2 separate regions of the Homo sapiens genome follow, and region 1 is linked to region 2. The links come from fine-mapping of genetic effects on gene expression. Tissue or cell type: thyroid. Region 2 holds a variant in brackets; the other region holds the start of a gene. All regions are shown on one strand. Distances are from middle to middle.

What was found. PIP is the estimated chance that this variant, and not a neighbour inherited with it, causes the effect. A credible set is the group of variants that fine-mapping cannot tell apart.
Region 1: CYP2C8 starts here. The variant in region 2 is the best candidate, but not a certain one, in a credible set for the expression of CYP2C8 in thyroid (GTEx, PIP 0.72).

What each region holds. Positions count from the first base shown.
Region 1 is chr10:95,068,329-95,070,982 of GRCh38, forward strand. It overlaps CYP2C8 (cytochrome P450 family 2 subfamily C member 8), which reads right to left and starts at 1,169. Exons shown (of 9, transcript NM_000770.3): 1 at 907-1,169. The coding sequence starts at 1,074. RefSeq lists a promoter at 1,074-2,654.
Region 2 is chr10:95,114,186-95,117,046 of GRCh38, forward strand. The region is part of intron 8 of LOC107984257 (a long non-coding RNA gene); the gene reads right to left. Among named protein-coding and RNA genes, the nearest start is that of CYP2C8, 46 kb to the left of the region's middle. The variant G/C (reference allele first, on the strand shown) is at 1,267.

The sequences.
Region 1 (2,654 bases), 46 kb before region 2:
CAATTTCTTCCATTCTCCAGCAACCTTGGCCACAGACAGTGGCTTTCTTCAGAATCCAAAAGAATTCTGTTAACTACCTATTGGGCCCTGACTGATTACTTCTTTCTTTCATGCACTTATGTTTGCCCTGAACCCACAGATATTTATTTCACATCAGCCATCAAATGAATCTTCAGAGAAGTTCAATTTTCATGACCATTCTGAATAAAACACATGACTACTATAGTAGAGAACTTATTGGATGAAATTTCTAATCACACACACTTCCCTTCACCTTCAGTCAAAAATCATAGCAAAACACTGTGAAACAAAGAGGAGAAACAGCACTTTAAACTTTTGCCACTGTATTAAATGATTATATAATACAATGACCCCAATGTTTCTGTATTCACAAAATGCATCAACTCACTCCGCTATTTCTGACAATGACAGACTTAGAAAGACAAAAGAGGCCAGGTACGGTGGCTCACACATGTAATCCCAGCACTTTGGGAGGCCAAGGCAGGCAGATCATGAGGTCAGGAGACTGAGACCATTCTGGCTAACACGGTGAAACCCTGTCTCTACTAAAACATACAAAAAATTAGCCGGGCATGGTGGAGGGCACCTGTAGTCCCAGTTACTCGGGGGAGGCTGAGGCAGGAGAATGGTGTGAACCTGGGAGGCAGAGCTTGCAGTGAGTGGAGATAGTGCCACTGCACTCCAGCCTGGGCAATAGAGCGAGACTCCGTCTCAAAAAAAAAAAAAATAGGAAGACAAAAGAAACATCAAAGAAGTTCAGAGGGAGTATTTTGCTTTACAATGATCTATTATAATAGTGTGCTTCCAGGAATATATTTTGTCTAAAAATAGCAGTCAAATAACTTACCCTTTGCAATTGGCTGGAGGAACATAAGGCAGACTTACATTGGTGAAAGATTTGCAGATGTCCTTAACATCTATCTGTAGCATATTTCCAATAATAGGAAGAGGAGTGGGGCCAGGAGGGAGCTTCCTTCTCCTACAGCTCTGTCTCCAGAGTGAAAAGAGAAGCATAAAAGAGAGACACAGCACCAGGACCACAAAAGGTTCCATTGAAGCCTTCTCTTCTTATTAAGACAGCTGTGAGCTTGCACTCCAAAGTTTTTATAACACTCCCTGCTAATTTAGTGTGTGTCTCTTTGACATGTAAAGTAAACAATCACCTAGATCCAATTTATACTTTTTTTCTGAGTGGACTTTGGCCCATGGATAGAAATAAAATGTTCTTTTGTCCTACTCCTTCTTTCCAGTGCCAATCTAGGAGATTCTGGTTTAATTGTATTGGATTGGAGCCCAGGTATTTTTAATTAAAAGTCCCTGGTTGTTCCAATGTGCTGTGATGATGGAGAAACACTGAAGTAAATGATTCTATGTTAGAATATACTCAAAATTCAATATTCTCAGATTAATGACCAGTTGGGAATTTATGACCTTGAGGGAAATCAGTGTATTCTATATTTTGTGTATAAAAAATGTACATTGTAATGCTATATCAAAAAATAGGAGACTTAGCCCTTGATAACAAAAGCCTTTCAAATATTTAGTATAGTTCACTTAAAATACAGCTGCCTAAACATGAAATAGTGAATATAACTCATACATGTTGAATTACCATACATATATCAAATTATTAGCTAATAAATGTATATTTATATATATTTAAATGTATATAAACAATATACATAAATATATATGTTATTACATAATAATATTTGTGTTATTATTACATTATTATAATAATAGGTGATTATTTACTTTACATGTCAAAGAGACAAACTGAATTAGCAGGGAGTGTTACATACATTATTACATAATAATAACATAAATACATATTTATACTATTAAATATTATATTAAATATATAAAAGTATATATATAAATGTATATTCATCATTAAAAGAGACTGGAGTATAAAGATTATCATTTTTTATTTTTCAAATTGGGAAAGAAACTCTGGGAGAACAGGACACCTGTCAGTGCCACACAGCTCATTGCCGGTAAAACCGGGATTTGAGCAGAGATCTTCTGATACCCATTGGGGTTCATTACCACTTACACCACAGCTGGCTCAAGAACAATTTTAGAAAAACAAAACAAACCCCAGACATTAGTTACTCTGAAGATACGCCACCTTGACTCTGTTCAGAAAGCAACAGGCTTCACATTAAATAGAAGTCCGTTATTTGTTTATAAGGATAAGAGGACCGGAGACGCTCAAAAGAAGAAATAAAAATTAGAGTTCTCCCCTCTGCATCACCTCACAAGTGAAAGTTGTTCAGCACTATTAAGGAAAGGGCCAATCTCACATAATTTATGGCACAGGGCTTGAAAATCTATGGCTTCTCCACCTTCCAGTCACCTCCAGACATGGCTGCTTCTATTGTTTTTGGTCTGTTATTGTTACAAATAATAGAATGTAATCATACACAGCAAGGAAGAGAAATTATACACAGAACAACAGTTGTGGATTCAACAGAAGATGGAACACAGGGAAATCACTGAATGGACCCAGGGCACAGAACCACTGCAATGTGCAGACCTGAAATGGGAACTGATAGTCAATGGTCATGAAGATCTAAATACAACTGGATTTATGAACATTACTAGATCACTAATAACAAAGTGTGTATACA
Region 2 (2,861 bases):
GGAGATTGTCTTAAACGCTTTCTTGTAGTAGTTTCATAATTTGAGGTCTTAAATTTAAGTCTTTAATCTATTTTGATTTGATTTTTGTATATGGCAAGAGATAGGGGTCTAGTTTCATTCTTTTGCATATGGCTATCCAGTTTTCTCAGCACCACTTATTGTAGAGACTGTCTTTCACCCCAGGTATGTTCTTGGCACCTTTATCAAAAAGGAGTTTGCTGTAGGAGAGTGGATTTATTTCTGGGTTCTCTATTCTGCTCCATTGATCTATGTGTCTGTTTTTATACCAGTGCCATGCTGTTTGGGTTACTATAGCTCTGCAGTATAATTTGAAATCAAGTAATGTTATTTTGCTTAGAATAGCTTTGGCTATTCTGGGTCTTTTATGGTTCTATATAAATTTTAGAATTTTTTTTCTATTTCTGTGAAGACTGTCATTGGTATTGTTATAGGAATTGCATTGAATCTGTAGCAATGCAAGGAACTGCATGCTTTGGGCAGTATATTTTAACAATATATATTTTTACAAAATGGGTTCTCCCAATCAATGAACATGAAATTTTTTTCACTTTTTTGTGTCCTCTTCAATTTCCTTCATCAACGTCTTATAGTTTTTAGTATAGAGATCTTTTACTTCTTTTGTTAATTCCTAGCTACTTAATTTTCTGTGTGGCTATCATAAATGAGATTACTATTTTTTCTTTTTCACATTGTTTACTGTTAGCATAAAGAAATGTTACTAAGTTTTATATCTTGACTTTGTATCCTGCAACTTTACTAAATTTGTTTATCACTTCTAATAGTTTTCTTGTGGAGTCTTTAGGTTTTTCCCAATATAAGATGTATCATCTGCAAACAAGAATAATTTGACTTTTTTTCCAACTTGGATGCCTTTGATATTTTTCTTTTGTCTGATTGCTCTAGCTCAGACTTCCAGTAATATGTTGAATAACTATGGTGAAAATGGGCATCCTCATCTTGTTCCAGATCTTAGAACAAAAGCTTTCTGTCTTTTCCCATTCAGTATGTACTAGTTGTGGGTCTGTCATATGTGCTTTTTATTATGTTGAGGTATGTTTCTTCTATTCCCAATTTTTTGAGAGTCTTTATCATGAAGGGATGTTAAATTTTATCAAATGCTTTTCAGCATCAATTAAATGATCATATTGTTTTTATTCTTCATTCTGTTGAAACAATGTATTACACTGATTGATTTGCATATGTTGAACCATTTTTGCCTCTCAGGAATAAATCCCACTTGGTCAT[G/C]ATGGACATTTGTAATGTACTGTTGAATTCAGTTTGCTAGTATTTTGTTGAAGATTTTTGCATCAATGTTTAACAGTGATATTGCTCTGTAGTTGTTTTCATATGAATCTTTGGTTGGTTCTGGTATCAGGATAATACTGGCTTCCTGGAATGACTTTGAAAGTATTCCCTCTTCCTCTATTTTTTGTAATAGCTTGAGTAGGACTGGTATTACTTCATCTTTAAATGTTTGGTAATATTCAGCAGTGAAGACATCAGGTCCTGGGCTTTTCTTTATGGGAAAACTTTTTATCCTGACATTGATGTTATTACCTGTTGCTGGTCTGTTCAGGTTTTGGATTTCTTCCTAATTCCATCTTGGTAGGCTGTTTGTATCTAGGAATTTTTCCATTTCTTTTAGATTTTTAAATTTATTGGCATGTAGTTGCTCATAGTAGTCACTAATGATCTCTTGAATTTCTGAAGTATCAGTTGTAATGTTTCCTTTTTCATTTCGGACTTTGTCTATTTGGATCTTATCTCTTTTTTTTGTTAGTCTGGGTAAAGGTTTGTCAATTTTGTTTAAGTTTTCAAAAAAAACAACTTTTTGTTTCATTGATTTTTTTGTAATTTTGTAATTTTAGCTTTATTTATTTCTGCCTTGATATTACCATTTCTTTTCTTCTATTAATTTTGGGTTTGGTTTTCTCTTTTTTAGTTCTTTAAGATGTATTGTTAGATTGTTTATTTGAAGTTTTTTCTCTTTTCTGATGTAGGCACTTAATAGCTACAAACTTCCCTCTTAGTACTGCTTTCGCTGTAACCCATAGGTTTTGGTATAATGTGTTTCCAATAACATTTCCTTCAAAAAATTTTTGAATTTCCTCCTTAATTTGCTCATTGACCCACTGGTCATTCGGGAGCATATTGTCTAATTTACATGTATTTGTATAGTTTTCTAAATTCCTCGTTATTAATTTCTAGTTTTATTCCGTTGTGGTCAGAGAAGATGCTTATTTTTTCAATTTTTTGAACATTTTAAGACTTGTTTTGGTACATAACATGTGGTCTATTCTTAGAGGAGACTTTATTAAACAAACTTATAGCACATAAGGACCACAATATACAAACCTGAATGGGAGATGGAATTCAGTGAGCATAAGGACCTATGTATCATTAGGATGATATACATTGCTAGATAACTAATGCAATGCTTGTGCAAAGGTATGTACTGTAGAGATATTAACATATTTATTTTAATTTTTTATCATATTTATTTTAAATTGGTCAGCATAATTATTCTAAGCTGTTTTATAAGGAAAAATTGAGTTTTTGTCAAGACTCCACTTACACAATGTTTAACCCTCAGGTTTTCAGGGACTCTGATAATTCACAGAGAATGTTCACTCCCATTATATCACTTTTGATTCTCTCAATTATCTTCACCTATGGTAAAATCATCCCCATTTTAAAGATGAGGATATCAAGACTCAGGGACTTATCATCTGCGCCAAGAACATGGTGTCTGCAAGTTGTAGAGCAGAGGCTAGTACCCATAACCTTTGCACCTCAAAAACTTCTCTCTAAGCAAATTATTCAGTTCAACATTCATGAAT